Linked DNA regions of Homo sapiens: region 2 is linked to region 1. Evidence: fine-mapped expression QTL. A gene starts in region 1. The other region holds a variant in brackets. All regions are shown on one strand. Distances are between the middles of the regions. Region 1 holds the start of CHCHD4 (coiled-coil-helix-coiled-coil-helix domain containing 4). Region 2 has its middle 90 kb from the start of IQSEC1.

The links. PIP is the estimated chance that this variant, and not a neighbour inherited with it, causes the effect.
Region 2: its variant is fine-mapped to the expression of CHCHD4 in pancreas (GTEx, PIP above 0.99).

Annotation. Positions count from the first base shown.
Region 1 is chr3:14,118,425-14,133,541 of GRCh38, reverse strand. It overlaps CHCHD4 (coiled-coil-helix-coiled-coil-helix domain containing 4), which reads left to right and starts at 8,672. Exons shown (of 3, transcript NM_001098502.2): 1 at 8,672-8,887. The coding sequence starts at 8,866. TMEM43 (transmembrane protein 43) reads right to left here and starts at 8,490. Exons shown (of 12, transcript NM_024334.3): 1 at 8,337-8,490; 2 at 3,981-4,130; 3 at 2,586-2,720; 4 at 1,868-1,962; 5 at 947-996; 6 at 607-676. The coding sequence starts at 8,348. RefSeq lists enhancers at 7,856-8,145, 7,578-8,312, 8,246-8,445, 8,313-9,047, 9,816-9,915 and 2 more and silencers at 8,636-9,195, 9,206-9,255.
Region 2 is chr3:13,156,198-13,171,314 of GRCh38, reverse strand. It overlaps a transcript of IQSEC1 not described here. Among named protein-coding and RNA genes, the nearest start is that of IQSEC1, 90 kb to the right of the region's middle. RefSeq lists an enhancer at 9,449-9,974. The variant G/A (reference allele first, on the strand shown) is at 7,580.

The DNA of each region.
Region 1 (15,117 bases):
TCTCCTGTTCCCCGGAGCTTCCTACCCTCTTGCCTAGACCCCTGCCAGCCTGTCCTGCCCCACCCACTGCTGTCAGATGTATCTTGCATGGACTTTACACCCCTCACTAGCCCCTCCCAGAGCATTCCATCCCAACCATCTTACTGGCACAGCCCAGACCATTGCTGAACAAGGCCTGCTCTCTAGCCACACCCAAGTGTTATGCCCGCCTCACCACTGGCATGCCGTGGAGCTAACCTCCCTCTGCTGAAATCCTGAGAAGCCTGAACAAATGCCGCTGCCTCTGGAAAGCCTGTCCTGATTGTCCTCCCACCCATGGCAAACCATTAACAAAATGCTTCCCCGGCCCCGTGTGTGCAAATCCCCTTAGACGCTTAGTGCAGGCCTTATATTTGTGACTTGTTTGCGGGGAGCTTGTCTGGGGTCAGGGGAGACAAGTCTCTGTGTTCCTGGTGCCCAGCACAGGGCTTGGTCTCAAACCCATGTCCCACATTTTCAACCCACGAGGCAGGATTAACTCAATCCTGTTATTCAGATGAAGAAACTGAGGCTGGAGACCTGCCAGTGTAGACAAAGCTGCACTCAGGCCTTGGGCCTGGCTCTCACCTGGGGTTTTTGTGGCCAATCTCTCGGTCGAAGTTTTTGCTGTTGATGATTTCTGACCTCCATTCAGTGTCTGCTCAGGGAGAGGAATCAACTCAGAGCCCGGGTAGGAGTGGCACGCGGCTGAGACCCACCAGCCCAGCTCCTCCTATCTCACAGCCAAAGGGGTGGGTCAGGGAGCCTCAATGGATGGGTGGGAAAGCAGGGCTCTGAAGACTTGCACCCAGGGATCCTGATGCCTGGTGCTGAATCCTTCCCATGGCCCCACCAACAGCCCTGCTGTCCAGCCACCACTGTGGGCCCCCACCATGGGCAGAGACCACGTAAGGGGCCCAGCACTCACTGTAGGAATACCTCGTCTCCTTCTTCACCTGCCCATCCTCGGTGTACTCCCTGCAGGGAAAGCAAAGCAGCCACGGGGGTTAGCCTCGTCGCCCCAGGCAGTCTAATCTCTAAGCATCTGAGCAGGAAGCAACCTCAGGGCTACCAGATCAGACTCCCCAGATACGGCAGATGCCTTCTCTACACCAGCCCCAAGACAGGGCACTCACTCCTGACAGACAGCCAGCTCCTGCCCTCCAAGGCGCTACCTGGAGGAAAGCGCTCTCCCATCCTGAGCTGAAATCTGCCCGCACTGGCCTTACACCAAGGGGCCCAGCCCTGCCCTTTGGGCTCAGAGATCTGGCTGCATCCTCTGCTCCAGGACAGCCCTGCGGGGGGCCTCTTGAAGCTGCCCTTCTCCTGCTCCTCCCACCACCTCCCCACCTGTCGGTCACAGTCCATATGATTCAGGTGGGGCTGAACCCACCCCCAGCTCCAGGTGACCCCAGCCCTGATCAATGAGAACCTGCCCTGGGACTCCTGTCAGAAACGATAAGCTGTAAGTAGAGCAAAGATGGGACCAACACAGCTGATGGGAAGGCTGAACACAGAGAGATGCAGTGGGGTCTCGGGGTTGACATGCTGATCCTAATGACAGTGTTTCAGGCCTGCTCCAAGTCATGCTTCAAGCTTGTGCATCTCTGGAACTTCCCAGATGTGGGAGCAACTCAATCCCCCTTTCCTCCTGGAGCCACTCTTCACTGGATTTTTGCCACTTCCAAATCACTGGCTATTAATTTGGGGATCATTTCACACTTTTCTGATAGGAAGATGTTATACTTGAGTTTCAAAGGTATCAAAATGAAAGACATCTGCATGTTATCCTGACACCTACACTTCACTCCTCCTTTACCCCAACAGAGTTTTCACCCCAACAGCTCACCTGGACTCCTCAGTTTCTACCCATTGGTACATCTCCACGTGCCTCCGCAGTTTCACAGCCGGAAGATGGACCCCATAGTTTGGATCAGACAAAAGCTTCAAACAGAATCAAAGAAACCAAAAAAATAAAGGATAACATTCACGTCAGCCCAGAAAGCCTGGCTCAGGGGAAGCTGGACTGGAAGAGGAAGAAATAGAGAAGGGGACAAGGGTGGAGAGCCCTACACTGCTTTGCAGGGGAGAATCGAGGACACTCCCTGTCCCAGGTTCTTTACACACAGTGCCTGTGACTGTGACCCTCACAGTACAGGCCTGGGCTGCATGGCCCAATGGCATGGTGCCAACAGCGTACAGGGTGTTCAAATAACAGGAAAGCTCTGGTGCCCAGGGTAGTTTTGTGGCCTTGCACTGGACACACATGGTCATCAGAGTCATGAGAGCACCTCCCTGAGTGCCAGCCACTGTACCAAGGCGTTAGTTACCTAATCTCACCAAATCCTCAAGGCTGGCCACAAGCTTGTAACCATTACCGTCCCCATTTTATACACGAAGACACTGAGACTCAGGATAGACAAGTCCACACAGCTGCTGAGTGGTAAAGTCGGGAATCACTCCCATGTGTGACCATCTCCAAGGCCCATGCTTTCAAATCCTCAGCCAGACAACATCCAGGATGAGCCCCGAGCCACTGGCAGGTCAGCATCCCCTGCCAAACCTACCTTGGATGTCCGTAAGGCGCCAATGATGTGCACCAGCCTTCCTTCATTCTCCGGAGCCACACTGTGGATGCTGTCGGGAGACACCACAAGCGAGAGCCCCTCAGCCAATGAGGTTGCCGTCTTCAATGCGCGGCCCTGGGAGCAAAGGGGAGTGGGGATTTCAACAGCTCAGGGGTGGCTCAGCATGACTGTGCTTGTTGCAAAGTATTAGGGTAGGATGGGGCCTCCGGGAGCGCTGAGACCCATCTCCCCACCGTACAGTTGGAAAACTGAGGTCTAGCAAGTGGAGAGTAAGGACTGGAACCCAGATTCCTGCTTTCCCAGGGAGACTTCTTCCTACTGCCCCATTGGTTCCCACTAGCCCCCACCAATCTTAGCACTGCCCCAGTGGTGGGAACAGCTGATGTTTCTGCCTGCCTGTCCCTTTCTCCCCATTTTTCTCTGCCTTCTTTTTTTTAATTTTATTTTTATGTTTAAGTTTTTTGTAGAAATGGGGTCTTGCTATGTTGCCCAGGCTGCTTTCGAACTTCTGACCTCAAGCGATCCTGCCTCCTTGGCCTCCCAAAGTGCTGGGGTTACAGGCTTGAGCCTCCATGCCTGGCTCTCCTCTCTCCTACTCAGCCCATGTGGTTTACCTGAGTCTATCTGAACCCTGGTCAGATTATGGGACCCAGACCTTGCCAGTCAGAACATGTGAGTGCGCCCTGGACACGGAGACTGATTCAGAGGACGGAGAGCCAAGCCAGGACACTGAGAGATGGCCCTGTAACTGCTGCTAAATTGATTTAGAAATATACTGTTGCATCATGAGGCCCTATTAAAAAAAAGGAGAAAAAGAAAGAGAGAGGGAGAGAAAGAAAGAAACAAACAAACAAGAAAGAGAGAAAGAGAGAGACAAAGGAAGGAAGGAAGAAAGGAACAAAGGAAGGGAGGGAGGGAGGGAGGGGAAAGAAAGGAAAAGAAAGAAAGGAAGAGAAACAGATGGTTTTTCTCTTCCCTGGGCTAAGTGGTTGGATGTAGGCCAGTTGCTGGGGCCACATTTGCCATCACAGATGAAGTGCCTGCCCAAGAAAAACACCATAATAGAGAAAAACAGGCAAAAGATGAAGAAATGGAGATTCCTGGTGACCCAGCATGAACACCTGGATCCAACTACGCCTGAGGCAGGTGCTAACCCCTGGATATTCAGGTGTGTGAACTGATCTACTCCCCTTCCTGCTCACATCAGCTGTGGGATGGATCACAATGGAAAGAACTGTGATTAACTCAGTATCCTCCTTTCTCTTTTTAAAATCTAGGCCCTTGATTACCAAATCCAGCCTCCGGGTTCATCGCCTTTGCTCTCTGACATGGTGGGGACTCTCACTCTGCACAGGAAGACCCCAGACATTTTACCTCATTGGTGAAAATTAGGTAGAAGGAGAGCAGGAAGGCCATGAGCCCCACAAACATCCCACCCGAGGTCTCGCTCAGCCGTTCCAGGAAGCCTGGCTGGGAGCTGGTTTTAACTTTGACATGTTCTCTCCGGGTACTGGTACTGGAATACTGAAGAAAAAGAAACAGTAACAGAATGAAAACTAGTTTTTAAAAATAAATTAAATTTGCTATTTATTTATACTCAATTTTTTTTTTTTTTTTTTTTTTTTTTTAGTTTTAACTGTATGTGGTAAAAACACACAGATATTCAATGTACAGTTTGGCAGGTTTCCACAAACGTATATTCCATCTGACCAACATCTAAAGCAAGGTACAAAATATTTCCATCACCCCAAAAAGTTTCTTTGTGCCCCTTTCCTGCCAATTCTCCCCCTCTCCACCAACCAGAGGTAACTGGTGGGGATGGGGAGAATCTGAATTTGAATTTCTCCTACCGTAGATTAGTTTGTTTCTTCTACAACTTGAGAAAAATGGAATCAGGGCACCAACTCCTTTCTGCCCAGCTTCTTGGACTCAGAGCACTGCTTTTGCAATTCATTCATGTTGTGGTGTTTATCAGGAATTTGTTCCTTTTCATGGCTGAGTAGTATTCCATTTATGACTATACCACAGTGTGCTGAATCATTCGTCAGTGGATGGGTATCTTGACAGCTTCCAGGTTTTGGCTGTTATGAATAATGCTGCTGTGAATATTCATACATGAACCTTTATGCAGACATGTGCTTTCATTTCCCGTAGGAATATACCTAGGAGTACAACTGCTGGCTCGTGAAGAAGATGTACGTTTAACTTTTTATGAAACTGCCAAGCTATTTTACAAAGAGGTTATTAGAGATGTATTTTTAATTAAATTCAGCAAACAGTGGCTGAGCTTTCTGAGGGCAGTGCTAGCCCTTGTGGGGTCAGAAGTAGACAGTCTTAGGGCAGTGAGGTCACAACCATAAACAATACTAGAAGGTCACACAGAGGGTCCTGTGATGGGGGTGGACTTGGTGCTCAAGGAGTGACCCCTTCCACCTGGGGTATCAAGGAGGCTCCCTTGAGTGGAATCTTAGAGGCAGATCTTAGGGGAAGAGCATCCCTAAAGGGAGAACCGTATCAGCAGTGATGAGGAAGTAGGAAGTGGTTCTGGGGGAGCAGCTGCCTGTCTGCTTTGGCTGGGTGGGAGCAGTGGAGGAAGAAAGGGCTTGGAGGTAGGCATTTCTGGGCAGGTTCACAGTGGGCCTCAAACTCAAGGGTGAGTGGATCAGGCTTTGGTCAATAACAGAGGCATGATTTGGGGTGCATCCACTGCTGATCAAAAGTGTCATCGTCTAGGGCAGGATTCTGGAGCCAGAAGAACTGGGTTTGCATTTATGCTCTGCCACATACCAGCTACGGGGTCTTGGGCAAGCAACTTCACCACTTTGTGCCTTCCATTTCCTCTGTGCATAGGGTTGTGGTGAGAACCAAAGAACACAGTTATTGGGTAGCTCAGGGCCTAGGGCGTGGTAAGCACTGGACACGTGTTAGCTAGTAGAAATGTTACCAGATTTCCCTACAACTGATACTGGGCTGGCACCAGGCTGGGGGTGAGCTGACAAAAGTCACAAAGATGTAAAGTGGGGCCCAGCTAAGACAGGCCCCATCCTGGTATTGGGGGCCAGAGGAGTGATTTGACTCAGAATCTCTGCTTGAACAAAGCTGATGTCGCATTCTGATTGTCTTTGAGTACCACCAGCCAAGGCCTCCAGTGACCAGATGTCCATGAATCCAGAAGTCGTCTTGACTTTCCATGCCATTTGGAAACATTAGGTGAGTGAATCACCACATAGGGGCAGGTGACCATCACAATGATGACAATGGCAAACACACCGGGTCTATCACAGGCCAGCCCACAGGCAAGCCCAAAGAGCGGGATGTCATAACGACCCCATTTCACCGATAAGAAAATCGGGCTCAGGGTTACGTCATCTTCCCAGATCACACAGCTTCTAAGAGGAAGAGTTAGGATTCAAATCCGGGCAGACTGGAGGCTACTCTCCCATTACTCATTCCAGTCTGTGCTCCCCATCTCTTGGGCTACAATGTGAGCTGAATGTTGGGAGCCAGCTGCAGGCAGCAATAGGAAAATAAGGCGTGTCTTCCTCTTGGGCCTCCCCTCAGCCAGCATCAAGATAAGGGGCTCAAAGACGGCCTTGGAGGGAAGGAAGAGAGGTACAGGAGGGTGCCCCTCAGGCTAGGGGAGGGGTGAGGTGGGCAGTGACATGACAAACCCAGCCCACATTCTGAACCAAAATTCCCAGTAAACATGGAGGATCATAAAGGATCTATATATCCACACATATTTATATATACATATAGTATGTATTACATGTATACACACATTATATAAACACACACACACACGCACACACAGACGGACATCCCCAGTGACACATCCCCTCCCAGTCCTAGCACTCAGGACTTAGAAGAAATGAGCAATGAGTGGTGGGAACAGAGGCTGACACATAGGCCCTGGAAATGGACAGAACTGGATTTGATGCCTAGGTTCACCAATCGCTTGCTGTGTAAGCCTGGGTAAATTGCTCTACCTCTCTGATTCTGTTTACTCACTTATAAAGTGGAGAGGGGAATAGTACCTTCACCACAGGTACTGCTGCTGCTGTACTGATTGAGAATTTTGTTGCCTCCCTGCTCCATCCCGCTATCTTCTTCCTCACCCAGCCTAGTGGCTGCTGTAAATGTGTACTCAGCTACTGGATGAATCAAAAAATGCTTGGCAGCAGAGAATACTCAAATGCATGTATATTCCTTGGTGAGGGGTCAGGTCTCAATGTACCCAAGATGATCTCTATCCACTGGGACCATTTGTGCTACCCTGCAAGGACAGGCTTGTTTTCAAGTATTAAGTACCTACCACACATCAGGCACTGTGCTAAGCAGTCTCCCTTAAATATCACAGTAACTGATCCATGAGGCTACATAAACCTGGAGAGATGAAAGCCACACAGCTACTGGGTGGAAGAATCTGGATTGCCCCCAGGTCTCCCTAACTCCAAAGCCTGCCCTTTTCAGCATATTTCCGTGTCACAGCATGCCAAGCCGGCCACGAGAGCTTGGGCAAGTGCCTTCCCCTGCTAGGGAAGTTCCCCATCTGTAAAATATGGTGGTGGTAGTGATGGGAGCAGACAAAGAGTCCACATACTACAGACAGGCTGGTCTCCTGACTGCCCTCTCGCCTGGCCGAGCCTGAGTCTCTCCGAATACCTCTGAGGCTTTTCTAGGTACAACATTCAAGGCTTCTAACCCTCCTGTGGGCCCGAAATGTCCTGGGAGTGTGGATGATACTAACCCGAGACAAAGTGTACTAGGGCTGTGGGTGATGCACACCCTGGCCTCTCAAGGGGTGTGGGAGGCAGAGAGGACGCTTGGGGACAGAGGCGGTGTCTGGAAATAGGGTGTGACAGGCAAGGGGAGAGCTGCTAGGACACTCTACCAAAGCAGGAGGGAGGGTGTGTCTGGGGCTGGCTGGGCTCCTAAGCGGGCCCTAGAAGCACTTTCACAGAGGAGGGGAGAGGTGAGTCACCAGCTTCTCCCACACCCAGCGCCCTGGTAGGAGGCGCTGCTTGTTGAATGAATGTTGGGCTTAAATAGTTTCCCGAGAAAGGCTAGTTGCAGGGAGAAGAGGCCTTGAGGGAACAGCCCTCAGCCAGGCCTCCTCCAACCAAATCCTTGCTAGGGGGAGGAGGGGCCCCGACAGTAGAGAAATGCTCCCTCTCCCCCAACTCCTTCGCTCCCAGCCCAGCCTAAGCTTTTTGGAGCATCACAGACTCGGTTTACAGAGACTCCCTAGGGCGGAGAGCTCTCTGCCCGCCTGGACAGCCCTGTCTGTCCATTGCTGGACAGCTCCACTTGGGCTGGATCGCCTTCCTCCCTCCCAAGGGACTGGCGCCCTCTCTGAGGTCGCGTCCAGCTCTCATAATGCGCAAGTTTCAGGGCCCCAAGGTACAGGAGGGAACTGGGAATGCAAGGAGGGGCCGCGGAGAGGCGTACAAGCAGATCCCAGTACGGGAGCAACACCTCCGAGTCCGCCTCCGCACGAACGCCGAGGACGAGGCGAGCCAAGGAACACGGACAAAAGAAGCCTGGACAGGCCGCGAGATGAGCAGAGGGATGAGCTGGCGAAGGCACAGACACGGCGAGCAGAGGGAGATGCGGGCCTAGCCGCACGGAGGAGCTCCAGGCGGCGAAATGGACCTAGAGGACCCCGGGGAAAAGCCCCAGGGCGACGGGGAAGCCTGGGTGTGGCCCGGCTGGCCCGGGGATACTCACATTCGCGGCCATGGTGGGACCCGGCTCGCTGCCGCCGCCTCGCGCTGTTCAGCTAGGAAGTGGGCTGACGACTGGAGCGTGGTGTCCAGCGGCCTCTTGCCAGCCCCAGCTTCGAAAATCCGCGTGGACTCCAGGGCCAAGCGGGACTTACTGCAGTTACCTCCCCCTGTGCCCAGTGTTTCTGCGCATGCGCGCGGCGAGACGTCCTGGAAACTATACGGTCCGGGACATTGCAGTACCTCATTGATGCGCCTGCGCACTGCAAAGCTTTCGGGGAAATGTAGTTTCTACTGCCTGGAGAGCTGTCGAGGAGCGCGCGACCTGCTGGGAAATGTAGTTTCCGGCTGAGGTTGGCCTGGCCGCGGTTGCGAGGGCGCCGAGGCAGGCGCGCGGCGGGCAGGCCTGGGAGGGGGCGGGTCCGCGCGGGCTTCGGAGGAGCCCGCCCTGCCAGAGGAGAGGGAGGTCACGGCGTAAAGGTGCAGCTGCCGCCACCGCCGCTTCTGCAAGGTCTCAGGGACGGGCTGCAGCCATGTCCTATTGCCGGCAGGAAGGTAGGGAGGGCGGGCTGCCACGGAGACCGGCCTACGAGGGCCTGCGGGAGACACGCGGGCCCCGGCGCCCCGCGACCACGCCGGGCGCGGGCCACCTGAGGCGCGGCCCAGGTGCCCACCCTGGGACACTCGGAGGCGGGCCGGCTGGGGGGTCGCTACTCCTGTTTTGCGGATGAGAAAACCGAAGCTCTGGGGGGAACGGGGCTGGTCCAAGGTCACAGTGAAGCCCGAACCCTGACCTCAGAGGGGCCTGTGCGTAGGAAGTCGTAAACTAGGTCCGGTTGGGGCACGGGAAGTGCCGAGCACGTTGCGTGTGGCTCGAAACTGGGAATGTATGGTGGTTAATTATCACTACCGCTCCTGCCATACCCCACGTGTTTACATTTTGCACGCGCCTTTAAAAGGCGCGTCCCGAAAAGTTGCCACTCGGGGTAGCGTGTGCTGTGCTGGAGTGCTAGGAGTTCCACTAACGGGAATGTTTTTGAGCCCCCTGCTACCTGTCAGGCACTGTTCAAGGAAACTTGCCTGGCTTGTCTCACAGATCTCGCTGCGACCTTTGTAAGTCAGGCTCTGTTGTTGGTCACATTTTACTGAAGAGTAAAGTTAGACACAGGAGACATGGCTAAAGCCACTCAGCCAGCAAATCGTGGAGCTGGGGTTTGAGCCTGGGCATTGTGACCCCAGAAGAGCCTTATCCAATCTAGTGCCCAGTGGATTGCAGGGAGAACCCTGCCTACCTCCCACCCCAAAGTTGAGCTCCGACCACCTACTGCTTCCTTGATGTTACTCTACCCAAGAGCTCAGAAGTACCCGAGCCACAGGTCGGAGGGCCTCCCCACACACTGCCACAAACTGGCTCCTTGGCCCTGAGCTCCCACCTAACCCCTCCAGGCCCTGGTATCCAGTGTTGTAAAATGAGATGTTGGGCTTCATTGATACGGCAAATACTCATGAAGCACCTTCTCTGCGCCAGAGAAGGGGGATGGATGGTTATAAAACTACAGAGAGAGTTGGAAGTCCCCCAGAAATTCTTTGGTGAATACTCCAGCTCCGTCAGTTAATTCAAGCAATCTGAAGCCCAGAGAAGGAGGTGGCCTACCTGTAGTTACACATCCAGTTAGGAGACTAGCTCAGCCTAAAATTCTGAGCCTTTTCCCTGGTGGCGCTGTCTGCTTCTAGAACCTCTCCTCCTCTGGGTCGTAAAGCCATAAGACTCACTCTTTAATGAGTACTATTATATTTCCGCTGATTACTACTTAATGTGTGCCATAAGCAAAAGTCCTCTGCCCTCACCACTCTTGTTTTTAATTTCGAGTCTTTCTCTAATTTACTTCATTTAGCAAATAATTTTTGAGCCTTTGGGTATAATGAGGCTGTGCTGATAAACAAGACCCTCCTCTTTGAGGATTTACAGGAGGCAGTTTTCTCTGGAAAGGGGAGGCTAGGTCCATCTGCCTCCAAAACATGGAGCCCTATCTTTTCCTGCTTCAAAGATCTCTCTTAGTTCGGAGAGGAGTGAGAATTGAAAGCACTCACTTATAGGCCTTCCTTAGTATTTATCTTGTGCATACCACTGTCCCCGTAAGAAGTCCCTAACTTCCCCCCCTCCGCCCCCCACTGATCCTTTATGCTTCCCATAGGATTTTTAAAAAATGATCCCAAACTGCTTACTGTATCAGAGCTTATGTGATCTGGCCCTGTCTGCCTTTCCAGCCTGGTCTCTTCCCACCCTTTTGCTGCCCAGCCTCTAGCCTCTTGGCTATTCCCTTGGTTTGGTATATCCTGCCTTCAGCTCTTCCGTGGCTGACTCCTCATCCTTTAACATTTAGCTCCAATATCACCTCCTGACCCTTTGTGTCTTTCACATCCTGAACTGTCTGAAATGACCTTTTTTATTTTTTGCCATCTTACTTCCTGCCTGTCTTCTCGCACTAAGCTGAGAGCATCAGATGGGCTGTGGAATCCCCAGCATCTAGCACAGGGCTTGGTGTACAATGGGTGCCCACATCTTTATTGAATCATGCATTTACCTGCCCTCTGTTCTGAGTGAATCACTTGCCTGTACAAGTTTATTTCAGGGGTCCACCTGCTACCCAGCCTTCAGGTTAAACTCGTTGGTTTGGCATTCAAGGGCTCTCAGCCTCGCACCTGGGCCTTGGGCTAGCCACACTTCTCCTGTGTCAGCACCATAGTGTTTCTTTCTTAGTTTCCTCTTTCTAATGCAGAGCCTGCCAACTCCTGTTCAGTCAACAATTATAGAGCACACGTGATGTGCCAGCCATTGGGCATATAGTGGTGAGCAAGGTGACACATTCTCTGCCCTCCTGGCATGGTGGAACAGATTGCCATTAAAACATCACCAGACAAATGCATGATTACAGACTGTCATAGGTGACATGAAGGAAAAGCCCAGCATGCTATGATCGTTTAGTGAAAGGCTCTATGGGGTCTGAGAAGGCTTCCTGAGGCTTCAGACATCCTTTTAAATGCCACTTTCTTAAGAAAACCTTTTGCAATCCTAAACACGTGTGAGCGAACACTACTTAAAACCCTCCTTTTGCCCTCCAGGCTTTGCCCAGGATGGTTCCTTCTGGAATGTCTATTCCCCTCCTTCCCTCCCTGAAGCTCTTTGTCAGGGACAAAGGTAGGATCCCTCCCCTTCCGTCTTCTCCACTGGATGCCTGTGTCGTATTCATCTGTGACCACCAGGTACTACCACAGAGCTGGAGCTGAGGAAGGTTTGTTGAGCTAAACTTCTAACACTTGCATTCTTCTTAACACTCTGTCTGAAAGCCATTTGTGTATTCTTCACAGACACTTGATTCTGTATGGGGGAGTTGTATCTTTCAAAGGGGTTAGATTCTAAACATGAAAGTCCTTAGCAGTCAGATTTATCAAACTCTTAGAAACCCCTTACCTCACTCAAAATACACCACAGGCACCACTCCCTCTGGCTTTAGATCTCTTTCTTGGGTTGAGCTTCAGAAAGTAGTGGTTGGAATTGTATCACAGGTGTATTGAATCAACTTAGCCAAAAACGAAAGAAAATAAGTCCTTAGTGCAGGTTGCCATTCTCAAACATGACCCTGGGGAGTCAGCATCCATGGGAGACAATAAACTGCTTCCTCTGCAGGACACAGGGGCATTCCTTCTGGGGTGGATGAGCTGAGAGATTCTGGTGTATAAAGATCCTCCCCTTTCATGGGGGAAATCAAACTACTCATCCAAGGGATTTTTTGGTCTCACTCACTTAATGGTGATAACCATTCTGTCTTCCTGCTTTCTGCTGGGACTGGGTGACAGAGCAGGAGTAGCGTCATCTCGGACAAACACTGGCACATTAAGTTCCAGCTCCCTTTCTAGCCTCATGCATTTCAAGGAAGTCACTTCTCTTCTAACTACAAGCAGCCAGAAAGAGCAGACAGTAAAACACAGACAAGACAGCTGGGACACAGAGGGAGGTGGGGGGAAAGTCTCTTGGGTGACTGCCAAACTTCACCCTCATACAATGGGCCCCAGTAAAACTGTGGGCCTTAATAAGCACATTCCTTTCCCTTCAGGTGTACTAAGATAGGGAAGCTAAAAGCAGTCTTGGGGGGATATGCCTGCAGCTGCAGAAAGATGTATGGAAACAGACACACCAGTCTGCCTCCCAGATAAGCACAACAAAGAGACACAGAAGCAGTCCAAGCCACTGATAAGCTCTCCCACCCTGAATCCTTAAAAACTCTTAGTCTGTAAGAGAGTGTGGCTCTGACCTAACTCAGCCAGCAGCCCCTCTCAGGTTTGTTTAAAATAAACCTGTCCCTGTTGACTGAAAAGCCACCCTTCGTGTTTCTCTCCTCTTTAATTCTTACACTTGGGTCTTCAAGCCCTAATCCAGAGTTGTTTCTCCATTCATTTTTTTCAACAAATATTGAACACCCACTTTGTCCTTGGTACTATTCTGGGCTCTCAGGATACTGCAATGAACAGAATAGACAAAAATCACTGCCTCTGAGGAGCTGACATTCCAGTGGGGGCATCAAGTGGTAAACATACATAGTATGTTGGGTGACGAAAAGCACTTTGGAGAAAGATAAAGCGGGATAAGGGAGATGGGCAGTGGTCAGGGACGGTGGCATCTGAGCAGGAGGTGAAAGCAGGGAGAAATCGCTGTGAGGGTACCTGAGGGAAGGGAAGGTGCTCCTGGAGGACAGAACACCCTGTGCAAAGGCCAGAGGTAGGCATGTGCTCAGCACATTCAAGTAAAAGCAGAGGCCAGCGTGGCTGGAGTGCAGGGAGTGATGGTGGGAGATGGGGTCGAAGAGGTGAGGGATGCAGCTCTTTCTGGATGTATTTGAAGATCGAGCCATTCCAATTTGCTGTTGGAGATGTGAGAGAAAGACGGGTTGGGGTGGCTCTACCGAGAGTAAAACTAAACAGCTGGGGGTGGAAGGTGTCTTTGTATCTGACTGCTCACTCAGTTCTGTTCTCAGCCCCACCCTGAAGTCCTGCACTCAGAGTAACCCCTCGGGCCTCCAGTTCCCCACTCTGACCAAGGTTCTGGGGTGGGGACTGAGTTGATTCTGGATGACCTCCTCCTTGTGCACTTTGAGTTCAGCTTTCTTCACTGGTTAAGTCAGAGAGCACTCGACCATCAGCTCTCCCATTTCCAAAACATTATTGACATCTCTGAGCCTGTGATTGTCTCTTTTCCTGGCCATGCTATCCTTGATGCCCTTTAAAAATTGCTGTCAAGTGGGATTCCAGCTGACAGCAGAAACTCATTTCACCTCCCCAACCACGTGAGGTAGGTAGGTGGAGCTGGTGGTAAGGCCTGGTTTCTGAGGCCCAGATGGTACCTGAGCTCATACAGTGGGAAGTGCTTAAGCCCAGATTTGAACTCCAGTTCTCAGACTCTCTGTGATATTGAAATATTGAAGCCACTGTGCACCAGAGGGTTTAAGGTAGTTTTCCACCTCCTTCAGAACATGCATATTCAACTGCTTTTAAAGCTTATCTTAGAAATAAAAACACAAGCACTTTTAAATTTTATTTCTCTAGAGAAATTGCTGACAAATGTCATGAGAACTACTAGTCTAGCTGATTGTCCCACTAGTTGGCATCTTACGACTAGTCTGACCAGTCCTTTCTTTCACAGTTAGGTCTGTTAGGAATAGGTAAGCCTTGTCCTTGCATCAGTCCTTGAATCGACTTTTAAAAGTTCCAGAAAGCAAAGGCCCTCTAGGACAGGCATACAATGGACAGTTTGTAGGGGACATACTCCAGATCTTTCAGACCAGAGTTCCTGTTCCTGTTCTGCCTTCATTTACTGCATGTCTTTTGGTCTGTTTCTCAGATCCTGTGGTCTCTGTAAAATGGAGATAAAGTAATACCCACCAGTGAACTCACAGATGTAATAAAACACATTGCATGGGACAAAAATGTGTAAAAGATACAGCTGTTACTGTTCTACTTTCGATCCAGTGTGAACTGTGCTGCAAGGGAAAATGTCCAGGAAGGCACATGTGAGGACCTGGCCCAGTGGGAGGGACCTGGAATTCTCAGTGGGATTGTGCTAGGCTGGTGTTTCCTAACCTGGCTGTGTATCACAGTCACCTGTGAAGCCCGTGAGCTACATGGACATGGCAGAGAGCTCGATTCAGCTTTTCTTGGGTGAGGCCTGGTCTCTCTATGTATGGCAAACCCCAGGAGGGCCTCATACTTTACCACGTTTGGACCCTTTGCTTTCTGTGCCTGTGACTGGGCCTCCCCGTTGGGCTGCGCTGAGCTGCCATCTCGGTAAACAAAACTGCCAGAGCTGAGTTGCGAAATTTGCATCAGCTCATTCTGCTTAGCGTTCAACATTTTTACAGATTGCTTTTGAGTATTTTGGAAACTGGCCAGAATAGTAGAATCAAGGTTACTAGGTACTTTAACAAGTCCTGGCTGCCTGGTCCAAAAGCTTTCCCCAGTCAGCCACAGGGGAAAAGCAGCCTTCTGTTGGATGACATGCAAGGTATTGAGGCAGAGGCCAGCTCTGGGAGCAAAAGCCTCCAGTGGGTTGGGGGTCCTGGCCCCGTGTGCTGAGGGTTTTTTGTTGTTACTCTGTTCTAGTGTAAGAGACCCTGTGCAGTGTGGGCATGGCGTAAGGCACCAAAGTGCCCTCCCTCTGTCCCCTGAACTGTCCTTCTCACTGGAGATGTCGCTCGGTTTTTGTTGTCACTGCCCCCTTCCTTCCAGAAGCC
Region 2 (15,117 bases), 960 kb after region 1:
GAAAACCTTTTCTCCTGTGTCCACCTGCTTTGACAGTCTGTGTGCCCTTGAGTGGACCACCTCATCTGTCTAAGCCTCAGTTTCCCTGTATCACGTGAGATGGTGCATTTGAGGCCCTGTACATGCATAATGAAAGGATAGCAGTGACACTGCGGATTTCCTCAGGGAGAAATGAAGGGCACAAGGCTTTCTTTTTTTGTTTTTTTTGTTTTTTTTGAGATGGAGTCTTGCTGTGTTGCCAGGCTGGAGTGCATTGGCGCAGTCTCCAGTCTCTGCAACCTCCGCCTCCTGGGTTCAAGCTATTCTCCTGCCTCAGCCTCCCAAGTAGCTGGGATTACAGGCACTCACCATCATGCCCGGCTAATTTTTTTGTATTTTTAGTAGAGATGGGGTTTCACCATGTTGGCCAGGCTGGTCTTGAACTCTTGACCTCGTGATCCACCCACCTCGGCCTCCCAAAGTGCTGGGATTACAGGCGTGAGCCACCGCGCCTAGCACAAGGCTTTCTAAAGACTCCAAAAGGCTGCTGGACCATCTTTAAATACTGTTTGACTCTGGCACCCATTGCATTGCCTAATAGCTGGCTGCCGTGTCTCTTATTTTTATTCTTGCTTCAAAGCTAATAGCTTATGATATAAAGACCCAAATATTGTGGTGAAAACCTCCTACTGGACTAGAGCGGCCCTCTTGGTTGGCTGCATTACCCTGGCGCTCTGGAAGCTCCGTCCCTGTGGTTTTGCAGGGTACAGCCTCCCTCCCGGCTGCTTTCACTGGCTGGCATTGAGTGTCTGCAGCTTTTCCAGACACGTGGTGCAAGCTGTTGGTGGATCTACCATTCTGGGGTCTGGAGGACGGTGGCCTTCTTCTCACAGCTCCACTTGGCAGTGCCCCAGTAGGGACTCTGTGTGGGACTCCCTTCCACACTGCCTAAGCAGAGGTTCTGCATGAGGGCCCTGCCCCTACAGCAAACTTCTGCCTGGGCATCCATGCGTTTCCATACATCCTCTGAAATCTAGGCAGAGGCCCCCAAACCCTAATTCTTGACTTCTGTGTACCCTCAGGCTCAATGCCACATGGAAGCTGCCACAGCTTGGGGCTTGCACCCTCTGAAGCCACAACCTGAGCTCTACATTGGCTCCTTTCAGCCATGGCTGGAATGGCTGGGAGGCAGAGCACCAAGTCCCTAGGCTGCACACAGCTTGGGGACCCTGGGCCTGGCCCACAAAACCATTTGTTTCTCCTAGGCCTCTGGGCTTGTGATGGGAGGGGCTGCTGTGAAGACCTCTTGACATTCCCTGGAGACATTTTCCCTATTGTCTTGGGGATTAACATTCGGCTTCTCATTACTTATGTAAATTTCTGCAGCCAGCTTGAATTTCTCCTCAGAAAATGGGTTTTTCTTTTCTATCTCATTGTCAGGCTGCAAATCTCCCAAACTTTTATGCTCTGCTTCCCTTAGAAAACTGAATGCCTTTAACAGCACCCAAGTCACCTCTTGAATGCTTTGCTGCTAAGAAATTTCTTCCACCAGATACCCTAAATCATCTCTCTCAAGTTCAAAGTTCCACAAATCTCTAGAGCAGAGGCAAAATGCTGCCAGTCTCTTTGCTAAAACATTACAAGAGTCACCTTTGCTCCAATTCCCAACAAGTTTCTCATCTCCATCTGAGACCACCTCAGCCTGGACTTTGTTGTCCATATTGCTATCAGCATTTTGGGCAAAGCCATTCAATAAGTCTCTAGGAAGTTCCAAACTTTCCCACATTTTCCTGTCTTCTTCTGAGCCCTCCAAACTGTTCCAACCCGTGTCTGTTACCTGGTTCCAAAGTCGCTTCCACATTTTTGGTGTCTACAGCAGTGCCCCACTCTACTGGTACCAATTTACTGTATTAGTCCATTTTCACACTGCTGATAAAGACATATCTGAGACTGGGAAGAAATAGGTTTAATGGACTTACAGTTCCACATGGCTAGGGAGGCCTCACAATCATAGCAGAAGGCAAGGAGGAGCAAGTCACATCTTACGTGGATGGCGTCAGGCAAAGACAGAGCTTGTGCAGGGAAACTCCCCCTTATAAAATCATCAGATCTCATGGTACTTATTCACTATCACAAGAACAGCATGGGAAAGACCTGCCCCCATGATTTAATTGCCTGCCACTGGGTCCCTCCCACAACACGTGGGAATTCAAGATGAGACTTGGGTGGGGACACACCCAAACCATATCACCCACCCTGAGTTAATTTTTGTATATGGTGAGAGATACATGTTGTTTTAAAAGAATTTTGCAGGAACTCTATAAGGAATATGGTGATAAATAAGACAGATACAGTACCTCCTCTCATGGAGCTGACGTTCTATTAGGAAAGACAGACAATAAGCAAGTAGACAAATAAGACAATTTCAGATTGTCACATGTTCACAGGAGGATGAATGGGGTAATATGGCAGAGAATCTGGGGGGCCAGGGGAGGGCTATTTAGATAGGAGGGATACCAGGAAGGCCTGTCCTAAGAGGTGGTATTTAAAGTAAAATCTGAATTAGAAGATGGAGCCACTGAAATCAAAAGCCAGGGACAGGACAGATCTTCCAGGAAGACGGAACAGCAATGCCCTAGAGCTGGTGTTGGGGAGCTTGGCTGTGTGAGGGCAGAATGAAAGGGTGTGGCTGCAGTGGGGAGCCGAGGGGAAACTGGAACCCTAAGAAGGTGGAGGACTGAGCAGGGCCAGACCTTGCAGTCTTTGTGGGCTGTGTGTGGAGTTTGAATTTTGTTCCAAGGGCAGACTGCTGCAGAGTGAAGGTAGAGGAACCTGATTTGGACTGGGGAGCTGCTGAAGGCCTCATGGATGAGGCCCCTGAGATGTGCTTATGATCCGTGTTAAGTGAGGAAGACGGGCATAGACTGATGTAAACTGTCATTTCCACTGTATAAAAAAATGGACAGGAAACAAAGCCCATAAGCATACATGCAAAAATGTGATAGCGATTACCTCCAGGTGGTAGGATTAGAGATGATTTTTACTTGTTTTTCTTACGCTTTTCTACATCACGCCATATAAGAAAAATAATCGTGGTGATTTGAGAACTTGAATTTGGATCAGTCACAGCACTTAGTTGCAGACAACAGAATCTGCTCTTTCTAGTTTGAGCTAAGGGGGATTTATTTCCATGTATTTTGACTCAGAGTCCAGGACCGAGCTTGGATGTCCCATAGCCAGGAACAACACAACCTGGACCATCACCTAAATCCACCTGACTGTTGCCATGGAAACCCCACTGCCTGTGAGGCTTAAACCTGGAAACTGGAGCCAATTGCTTTGGGAGAACCAGAAGCCTGTGTTCCCTTCCAGCCGGGAGCTCATTTCTCCACCCTGCTGCTCATGCCCACCTTCTCAGTCTGGACAGGCCTCTGCCCAGAGAAGCTGAGAACATTTGCAGAACCAGAGCTGCAAGGGCATCTGGGAAAGGTAGATTTCAGTTTTCCAGAGGTTCAAGTCCAGTGAGCATGGAAGGAGGGGCTGCACACATGGCGAAGGGGGCAGTCTGCAGGTTCCACTGCAGAAGAGGAACCAGAGCGACAAACACTATCACTTGAGCCTTGGCCGTCTGAAGGCCACCTGGAGAAAGGCTTGGTTATCCTCTATGCTCTTGTGAGGACAGCCAGAGACTCTCCTTGTCCGGGGAGCACTGGCTGTCTGAGCCTCTTGCTTTTGCCCCCCCAAGTGCCACCAGGCTGACGTCCACCTGTCAGCACCTCCCCTTCCTTGCCTGGGGGAGCTCCTCGGCCACCTGTGAGGCAGGCTGATGCGTGCAGACTTCTCCTCCCCAGGAGCAGCCTTCAGCCACTCCCAGCTGCTTCGGCCCTGGTATAAGATTGCTGGAGGCAGCTTGAACTGGTTTCTAGGGCTCCCAGGTAAACTGAGCCTCAGCTTCCCACAGTGGTGGATATAGTGAGGTGCTGGGCAGCTTGATAACAGCCATTGTTAGCCCCCTTCTCTTTCTCTTCTCACCTCCCTAGCCCTTCTCTCTTCTCACTTCCCAAATAAACTCCTAGCTGAATCTTTATCTCCAGGTCTGCCTCAGGGACAGCCCATGCAAAAGCATCGGGGATCATCCTGTTCCTAGATCTCAGCTTCATCTGCAGGAACGAGAAGGCTCCAGGATGCTCCTGACCATCTGCTTCTTTGCCCATGCTGAGTGCCGCCATAATCATAGGCACACACACACGCACATACAGGCACACCCACATACAGTGTACCACACACGTACACACATGCACACATGTTTGCACATGCACACACGCACAGGCATCCTCCACCCCGGGGCTGCCCAGCCCCTCTCGCTTTTCTCCCCACATTATTGCTCCTTCGGCCATAGGACGGGCGATGTTATGCCAGGGGCTCCAGGGCATCCTCTGCATGTGCCATCCTTGGTGTAAAAGATGACTCCACTGTGTGTTGCTGTTGGAGTGTGGGTTCTGGGTCAGTGCAGTCCTGGCTTCCCACAGCAGACACTTCCTACAGCCTGCTCAGTGCCAGGCCCCAAGCTGGGCTCCAGTGTGTGGGAGGCACCATCTCCTCCAGATGTTCCTTCCCTGCAGGCCCCCACAGGTCAGCACATCCTCAAACCACACCTCGGGTAGGTGGTGAGAGAAGCAGCTTTATTCATCAGCCTCTGTGCTGGGAATGTACTTATCTCCTCACCACATTTTAGGGGCCAATTGTTGCTATCATCCCTAATCCGCAAATGAGGAAACTGGGGCTCATGGAGATTAAGTGACTACTGAGGCCACCTGGAAGCCAGTAAGGGATGAAGCTGGGCCTGGGACCCAGGAGACTCTGATGGCTCAGGGTCAGTGCTTGTCCCCTGGCGTCCCAGAATGTGGAGCTCCTGGCGTGACTGCACTGCTATGCCTCAGCCACATAACAAGCACTGGAGACCCTGCAGTGAATGTGACAAAACCCTTACCCTTGTGGCATTTTCGTCCTACTGAGGCAGATAGATCCTAAGAGACATAAATAGAGAGCTTCACGTGGTCCTGAGTGAAGGCCACAAGACAGAGATCTGGGATAGAGGCGCAGAGCAGGAACTGTGTGTTAGCTATCAATTACCATGTAACAAGTGACCCCAAAAACGTAGGAGCTGAAGACAGCAAATGCTGATGGTCTTGTGTTCTGTCCTGCTGAATCCATAGTTGGAGTTACCCTAAGAGCAGAGGCAGGGGAGTTTCCTGTAGGAGTGCCCCAAACCTTCCTGAGCTGGAGCCAGTTGTCATTCCGAAGAAAGGATCCCTGAACGCCTGGGTGACCAGTCCACAGCATTTATTAGGGAACTTACACACATAAGCCTGTGGTGTCATTGCCATGGACAGCGAGAAAGGAGCTGCCTACTCAGGCATGTCCGTAAGCGGGGCCCGGTTGCACCCTGTGTTTCTTGGTCAGCGCACAGTGGACCAGGGCACCCTACCTCTCCCTTTCTGAGGTCAGAAATGCAGGAACAGTGTGGCTGGTGGCTCTGCCTCTGGGCCGCTCATGTGATTGCAGTCATGATGTTGCCTGGGGCTGCAGCAGCGAGGGGTGGAAAATCTGCTTCTGGGCTCACACTCATGGTTGGTGGCAGGGGGCTCAGGTCCTCACCACCTGGGCCTCTTCCAGAGGGGCTGCTCACAGAACAGGGCAGCCGGCTTCCCCAGGGTGAGCAACCTAAGATGGCGATGAAGTGAAGACAGACAGACACACACACACACACACACACACACACACACACACACACACACGCCACCCCCCCACCCCCCACCCCCCCGCTTGCTTTCTTTTCTGTCCTGGCTATGATCAAATGGAAAACAAAAACAAAAAATAAGAACTTTCAAAAGCTGCTCCTGGGATCTCCTCTCCCCATCATCAGGCTTCCTGGGAATTCTGTGGAGGGTCTTCAGCCACCAGGGGCTGGTCTGCACCTTGTCCCATGGCCCCCGGGGTCAAGGAGATGCCACAGGTGTCTGTGCGCCATTCCCATCTCACATCACCACTTCACCTGCTGCCGTGGGGACCATGTGATCCAAGTTGCTGTGCATTGATGCTGAATTAGAATTGCTGGAGAGGGAGACCAAGGTCCTTCTAGAACAAGGGGTGTGCACTCAGGCACCTGGAGCACACATTGCTGGGGACTACCTGCCTTCTGTCTCATTTGCTACTGGTGAGCGCGACCAGGCTGGGCAGCACCAAGGGAGGCCGGGTCTGAATCTGTGGGCAAGCTTGGTTCAGTGGGAAAGGCATCCCCTGGGGCTTTCTATGCTGAAGGGTCGTGCAGCATGTGCTCTGACTTCCGTTCTGGAACGTTACTGAAAAGGCAATGAACAAAAAGACAAATCTCTGACTCTGGGTTAAGTAAGTTTTTATTTCTCTAGCTCTCTGGCAATAAAATCCAATTTGGGACATCCAGGGATTAGATTCCTGAATGTGTTTGCTCAAAGCCCTTTGCTCCTTCAGACCCAGGAAGCCCAAGCGAGGCTTTAGCCATCAGCTGCATGGAGTTTAATCCCAAAGTCCCTTTCCTTTGGTGTACAGAGCAGGAAGGCATCACTGTCAATACCGCGTAGTCACAGTCTTCGTGAAAGTTCAAGTGCGCAATACAATCTGATTGTCCAATTTCTTGACATTCAAGGTTGTCTCCTTTGTAATATGGTTGTAATTGATTTCTGAGTACTTGAAAATAGAGCTGGTTCTGGGGAAATAACACTGGAAATACCAAGTAGGGGATGCAGTGAGGCCAGTCGCACCGCTCTCACTTATTCATTCATTCATTCATTCACTCATTCATTCATTTAGTTGCTGCCCAGGTCAGAGTTCTGGAACCATAGACCCCTCCTCTGGCTTTGCTCTTGACTCCTGGGGTGTATTCAAATCCTGGGAAAACAATTGCAGTCAAGGTGATGGAAACAGGAAGAGGGTGGGAAAGGAACCCTAAGACTTCTAAGAAGAGTGGACTTTCTGAATACAGTTCCAGGTCAAAGGAACAGCAGCAAGAGACCCCGGAGGATTGGGCCTGCGGATGTCTGCTGAGGCTGGGGAGGGGATGCTGGGAGCAGCTGGGGCCTCAGGGTCCCCACATCTAGTGTCGTTGTGCAGGTCTCCCGGAGCAGAGGGTTCTGGGCTCTAAGCGTGTGCTCTTCTCGTTGCAGGTCTGAAGGAGAAAGCTCGCGGAGCGTCAGGTATGTGCTTCATCCACCTCTGTCCGTGTGTCTGAATCCTGGCGGTGAGCGGCGTTGATGAAACCATGTGCTTTGATTTCTCCCTGCGGGTCTCCCAGGTCAGACCTCTCCTCCCCTGGCTGCCCCCTTCAGCCCTGGCGTGTGCCCCAAGGGCCTGGGCATGATCTGCAGAGCACGTCTGTTGGCTCTGCATCCTGGAGCAAAAGCCCTTCCCAGCTTCCCTGTGTTTAGAGTGACCTCTGCAGAGATCACCTAGGTTGGTGGTTGTCCCTTCCTTTCTGGGGCTGGTGATGGCCCAGTGTGCCAAGGCTGTGACCCGTCTAGGACCAGAAACTTCTATACCTGACACCCCTGGGGCTGGGCTGGGC[G/A]GGGTCAGGGCAAGTCTAAGATGCTTGGTGGTGGGCCCGGCTCTAACCAGCCTCTAACAATGCAGGGGTGTCTCCACGGCAGGCGTAATGCCCCTGCCCATCCTCGCCCCACCAACCGAGGGTAGGTGGGGGTGGACATGGAGTGGGCTTTCTGCCAGAGGCTCTGACTGAACCTAGAAGAGGGTCTGGTCTGAGACAGTACCTGGGGTGTCAGTGCCCCAGCCACGGGGCCTGAGGCCCAGCAGTTCTCAAGGCATGAGCTGGGGGACCAAGAAGGCCATGGTCATGGGAGATGGGGGTCAGCATGGTGAGGCTGGGGATGCGAAGGAGAGGCCAGGAGGCAGTTAAGAGCCCACGGACCCCCAGTCCCCTCTGGCAGCAGATGGACTTCCAGGTCTTAGGGTGGTGGCCTGAGGTGGCTGGTTTGTATTGTGATGTTACAGGCTGGGGAGATGAGATGTCCTGAGCTTGGCCGTGAGGATGCCAGCTGGAGTGGGGTCCTCCAGGTGCCTGCAGAACAAGAGACAGATCTGGGGGAGGCTGCATCCCAGGGAGCCTCTTGGGTGGCAGCACAGGGGGTGCTGAATCTTATACTTGGGGCAGTCGGCTATGTGCTTGGAGCAGGGGACACTGGCAGGGAGTTGGGCTCCAGGGAACCAGAGTCCAGGGAGTGAGAGGCAGGGTCTCGCAGGAAGCAGAGGCATGCTCAGAAGGGGAACTGGAGAGAGAGAGGGTCCCAGAAGGACTGTGTGCAGGGGTGAAGCCCAGGTGAGGGGACTAGCTGGGGATGGTGCACTTGGGCTGGCAAGAGTGGGAGCTAAAGGGATAAGGGGGGGATGCCCGGGGGGATGGATGGACAAAGGCTAGGGTCTGGGGATCCGAGGGAGGGGGCAGCAGGCCCCTTGCAGCCTGAGGTGTGCACCGCCACATGGCTCCACCCTGGAACACAGCGTGGCCCTGAGGAGGAGGAGGGGAGACTGCCCTGGTGCACGATGGAGAAAGCTCTGGAATGTACCATTAAGTGAGCAAAGCAGGGTGTGAGAGTACACATCTCACACTACTTTGGGTAAGAAAGGGCAGGTGTAAGTACGTATATTCTTATTTAATTTGTCAGCAAAAAGAAGCAGGAAGGAAACAGTTGTCTCTTAAAATGGTCCCTTCAGAGGGAGGGCAAGGGGCAGGGCCTCCAGTGCCTGTATGCTTCCTCAGGGCAGACCTAGGAATATTCCTGAGGGTTCTGAACCCTGTCAATGTAATACTTGTTCAAACAATTAATTCAAAACAACAGGTTAGGGAGAGGGTGGGTTGCCAATCCCTGGGGCTGGCTCTGAGGTGGAAGGGGATTCCCACATGGACTCGGAGGGGCTGCAGGCTCAGGAAGGAGATGGCCTCGCAGCCTCTCAGGCCCTCCCTGGCCTGCCTCTCTGGGCTCCTTTGGGATCTAAGCTTCCCCCAATCCCCCCAAGGTGCCCTTCTCCCTCTGTCTTCCAAGAAGGCAGCTGCTTACCTGAAACCCTCATTCTGTGAAAGTTCATGGTGGGCAGCGGGTCCCTTACGGGGTCGCCCTGAGAACAGCCTGCTCTCACTGGTGACCTGAGCGGGGGCTAGTGAACATGTAGAGTGAATACACCCTCGTGGTGGGGATCTGGTCTGCCCCAGCCCCACCCGGCCTGGTGTTCACTCCAGCGGATCATCAGGAAAGCATTTGCCAGGCAGGCGCTGTGGAACCCAGCCCTGGGGGAGGAGGATGGGAACGACATTTCGGTGGGGGAACAGCATGTGCAGGGACCCCAGGAGTGAGCATGACTGGCTGCCTGGGGAGAATGAGGAATGGCCTCTGCGTTGCAGGGGGACTGGCACACAGAGCCGAGCATATGTCCCAGCTCCGAGCCACACAGCTCCCAGCAGGGTGCACAGACAGGAGAAGCCGGGCAAGGGAGATCGCGGATGGAAGTTCCAGCAGGGAAGGCTGTGTTTAGTTCTTCCAGGGCTGAAGAATCCAGCCCCAAAATGCCCTGCCGTGTGGACATCGCAGTAGACAGTGTTGCTGAGGCTAAGATGCTGGGGTCAGATGTGACTCGTCATGGCTTTACCTGCCCTGGCCCGTTGTCCCCATCATGCACAGGCATTGTGTTTCTTCCCATGCAGCTGACGACTTGGCTGCCAGGCCTATGTCATGGGTCACACCCTTCCCCCAGGAGCTGGGCCTCCCTTTTCTCAGGACCAGAGGTCCCAGATCATTCAGATCTACCCTGCCCCCACCCTCTGGACAGAGAGTCACCAGATCTGGGCTTCCAGAGCAGTGTCCGTGCGGGGTCTGCGTCCCCAAACCTGGGATCCTGACTGCAGTTCTCTCTGAGCGCTTCTACCCTCTCCAGACCCGCTAGAGGGGAGGTTGGAAAACTAAAGTGTGACCACGGCCCTCCCCCGCTTCTCCTCCCGCACTCCCCCTGGGCTGACACACTGTGGCAGTGGCCCTGGTGGTCCCTGGACGCCACACCCCTACCAGCGCAGCTGCGCTTCCACAGCCTTCCCATGCGCACCTCCAGCTCCCACCAAATGATGCCACTCGCCTTTCTAAATGCGGCCCATGATTCCTGCGTGCCTGCCCCCTGCTGTGTGTGACTCAGGATGTTTCCTATGTTTAGAAAATGCTCCACTCCACCCCCCGAAGATCCCTTCCTTTCTCAGAGCCCCCATGGCAGCTGCCTTTCTGGAGCTTTCAGGGGAGCTGGGGCTGACAGGGTGGCCTCCTGGTTGTCTCTGTGGCCTTTTATGCTTCACTTTTGATATCCCAGTCCCTTCTGCTTTGTGTCCAAATGACTTAAGCATTTGTCTTTCCTCTCAGGCAGAGGAAGACCCCCAGGACAGGGATGAGGCCCCTGAGTTGTGGCTCGATGGTGCCAGCACCTGTGGGGCACAGAACAGGCACCCAGGGGGTGTCTGTGCAGTGGATTCATCTTGGCCTTGCTGGGAGCCCTGGGCAGGATGCCTTGCACAGAACAGGCACATGTTCATGTGTGTTTGATTGGACTCAGGACTCATAAATATTTTCAGGCCAGAAACCAGAAGGAAGAGGAAAAATGGACCACTCCCATGCTCAGTGGAGACTGCCCCCGCAACACCCTCCCCTTACCAAACACTCACTAAAATTAATGGGCAGAGATTCTGCACTTGAAAAATCAGTGAAGCTGTGTATGGATTTTATTTGCCTAAGGAAAATATGACTGACCTTGAGAGCTCATGGCTTGTGCTAAATATTAAGGACACACAGGGGCAGGGCTTGGGGGCTCACACTTGTAATCCCAGCACTTTGGGAGGCCAAGGCAGGAAGATCATTTGAGGCCAGGAGTCCAAGACTAGCCTGGGCAACATAGCCGGACCCCGTCTCTACCAAAAATAAATTTAAAAAATTAAGGATAGCCCTGAGAGACACCTCCTCCCCACCAGCTCTTGCCCTGCCCCAAGGTCCCTGCTTGGTGAGATTCTTGTTCTTTAGACTCAAATGATCGGAGTTGCCACCTTTCTGGTTTGCTTTTCTTAGCCTCCGGAGCAGCAGGGAAGTGCTTTTGCATGGAGAAGCCTGTTTGTGAATTCACGCTCACTACTTTCCCCTGAGGCAAAACATTTGCAAGATCAGATATATTCATTTTCCACAAATGAAATGACTCATTTTTTGACCATTTTGCAAATGTAGGACTTTGCTCATTGTTCCCCGGGAGGATGTGTCTGCTTTTGACTCCACTAAGAGGAAGGCTCTGGAGGCCCTCAAATGTGAATCTTCTAATGATTTATTTATGGAAGAGGGACCATAGGAAGAGAAGAGGTTTGTGGAGTTTGGAGTCTGCAAAAATGAATGACCGGGTGGAGGGTCTAGAGAGAATGTGGATACTGGTTTGAAAGTGCCAGGGCTTTCTGCAGGGTGCAAGCATTATCTTTTTTCCCCCAGCACTCCGTCAAATCCTTGAAATTAACTCAGCTACATTCAGTCATAGGAATAAGTTCCATTCAATGAGTTCTCACTGTGGGTGGGGGTCTCACCTCATCTGCACAACCACCCGCACCCTTGTAAGAGAGTTATTATTGGCCCTTATTTTTTCAGCTCTGGGAAATTGAGGCTGAGAAGTACAAAACAGCTTGCCTAGGATGACGTGGATTTCGAGTGCAAAGGTGGGATGCTGTGCACCAAAGCCTTCGCAAGTCAGTGTCGCCTGTGGTGCTTGTTGAAAATACAGATTGCCAGGCCCTATCCCTTTCATGCCTCACTCAGTAGGTCTGGGCAGGGTCTGGGAATCTACATTTTTTTGAGATGGGGTCTTGTTCTTGTTGTCCAGGCTGGAGTGCAGTGACGTGATCTCGGCTCACTGTAACCTTCACTTCCCAGGTTCAAGCGATTCTCCTGCTTCAGCCTCCCGAGAAGCTGGGATTGCAGGTGTCTGCCACCAGGCCCAGCTAATTTTTATATTTTTAGTAGAAACAGGTTTCACCATGTTGGCCAGGCTGGTCTCAAACTCCTGACCTCAAGTAATCCGCTTGCCTCAACCTCCCAAAGTGTTGGGATTACAGGGTGAGTCACTGTGCCCAGCCTGAATCTGCATTTTAAATAAGCGCCCACATGATCTTAACAGGCTGCCTGAACATATGGTCTCTCCAAGGAAACAGAATTTCTCCAAGTATGCCAGTGTCCAGTGGCAGACACGTACCCTTCATAAGCATGAGCTGACTGAAGTGCAGAAATTTTGCTTCTAACACTTAGAAGAATTTTTTTTTTTTTGAGACCGAGTCCTACTCTGTCACCCAGGCTGGAATGCAGTGGTGTGATCTCAGCTCACTGCAACCTCCGCCTCCTGGGTTCCAGCGATTCTCGTGCCTCAGCCTCCTGAGTGGCTGGGACTACAGGCGCACACCACCACGCTTGGCTAATTTTTGTATTTTTAGTAGAGACAGGGTTTTGTCATGATGCCCAGGCTGAACTTGAACTCCTGGGCTCAAGTGATCTGCCTGTCTCGGACTCCTAAAGTGCTGGGATTACCACGCCCAGCCCTGACCTTAGAAGCATATTGCATGAGGTGGTCCCATGTAGGTCGCCTCCCCGTCAGGACTCTGAACGTTGACTGGCATTTTCCAAAGGCAACAGCAAGGCTCAGGGCTGGGACAATGAGGAGAGCCCAAGGACTGTTTTGTTTGGGGATGGTGGGGGAGATTCTGGAGACGGTGGGCCTGGTTACCAGCATTGACTCAGCTGGAACCAAGATGTGTGAGTAAACGTAATTAGTCCAAACAAATCCAGTTTTCTGTCTCCATACCAAGGCAAAGCAGCCTTTGTAATTAACTGGGCCTTTTTCCCCAAACCCAAAATGAGAACACACAGTTTATTTTGTTCACAAGGAGGTATGAAAACTGCTGAACGTGGCAGACAAAGCTGGGAGTGTTTGCTGTGCCAGGTAGACAGAGCTGAACTCTTTCTCTCCAGGAAGGAATGGGAGCAGGCTCCAAATGTGAGAGACGGGCTGGGGCTGGGCCGGGTCCCTCTGCCGCTATCCAGCCATGTTTTGGAGGTGCTGGACTGAGGGCTGAGCCGGCGGCCTCTGGAGGCGAGTGGACATTTCTTAGCACGGTGGAATCAAAAGAGTACAGACACTGGGGGCAGATAATCTTGAATTCAAATCCTTTCTCTTTGTCTTACCCTCATGTCACTATGCAACAGCCCCTGAGCTCTCCAAGCCTCAGATTTCACACTCATTTAACAGTCTTCATTGAGCACCTACTGTGTCTTTGTGCTAACTACTAAGGGTGTGAAGACCAATGAGATACAGTTAATTTCTGCCCCATGATGAAATCGGAGCAAAGACTTTAGCCTCAAGGCCATGGACCAATTAAATGAGGCATAGATGGAACAGCACATGCCATGTCATAGCATTCAGTTAACATCCATTTCCTTTCTTCTCCCTCTGCCACAGTCTGTGGAGACGCGGCTGCTCAGAATCCTGAGGGAGGGTCTGAGGCAAGCCCATGTTTACATGAGCAGGAGGTGGTAGCAGCTGCTTGTAGAGTGTGCCCTTTTGGCTGTCCTCCTTCCTTCCTTTGCTCCCCTGGGTTTATGATTGAGATTTCTTGGGCATTCTTGACTGTGGTGGACTTTACTTTTCCATCTCCTTGACTCTGTGCTGTATCCTGAGCAATTTCCTCAGGATGGTCTTCTAGTTCACTAGTGCTTTCTTCAGCTGTGTTCATTCTGCTGTGTGGCCTATGAATTGTGGGTCCCTGAGACCCTTGAATGGCCTCTGGATACCCTCAGCCTGCTTTCAGAGGCACTACTGGGCCTTTCTTTACACGGGAAGTAGAAAGATCTTATAGGAGCCACATTGAAGTCACTGGGCAAAAACCTATCTGACTGGGTGTATTTTGCGTTTTGATTTGTTTTCTGTGAACTTGTGTAGAGAATTAATAACTGACTGTTTAGAAGATGAGGCAGAGATATTGGTGTGGGGGCAAGGGAGTCTACTAATGGGGAATTAGACTAAATCCCAAAATACATTTGGTAAGCCTTGTCTAAACATCTGCTTCTATTGCAACCAAATCTTAAAGGTACTTAGAAGGTGGTGACACAATGTGTATGTGTGCATCTGACCCAGGTCCAGTGTTTGGGACAGTGAGGACTTTGAAACCAGGGTCTAAGCTGAATGACCTTGGTCAAATGACTCAAATTCCCTGAGCCTCAGTGTCCTTATCTCAAATGGAAATGAAAACATCAAGAGTTTTCTTGATCTTGTCCACATCTGACTCTCCATTCTCTCCTCCATCACTGTGGTCATCACACTCTGGCCTTCTGGTACCTCCATTCTTCCAAGCTCATTAGTGTCCCAGGGCCTTTGCCTGTGCTGTTCCCTCAGCCTAGAACATGCTCCCCCAGGTCTCACCCAAGATGAGTTCTCCTCAGTCCAATCCCCCTTCAGATGTCAGCTCCTCTTCCCTTATCATCTCACCTGAAGTAACCTAGCCAATCTCTGCACATCAGCCAGTTTACTTCTGTCCCTTATCTGCCTGTCCCCACTGGAATGTCAGCAGGAACTTTGTCTTATGCAGTGCTGTGCCTCAGTGCTCTGCCATGTGCCCTGGCACAGCATGCTATTTTGGTCTCTGTACTTGCCACTTCCCACATCCAAGGGGAGCACCTCTGGAAGGAGGCCAGAGCTAAATGTGCTAAGCTTGTCTGTCCACATGCCTGAATGCTCCCACTTCTGTCCCTCCATCATGCACTTCTTTCTCTTTCCTAATTGCCTATCTAGGACTTCCAATACTATGTTGAGCCCAAATGACAAAAATGACATCCTTGTCTTGTTCCTGATCTTAGCTAAAAAGCTTTCAGTCTTTCACTGCTGAGTATGATGTTAGCTGTGGATTTTTTGTATATGGTCTTCATTATGTTGAGGTAGTTTCTTTCCATTCCTATTTTGTTTAGTGTTTTTATTTTATTTATTTTATTTTTAATTTTTATTTTTTTGGGACGGAGTCTCGCTCTATCACCTAGGCTAGAG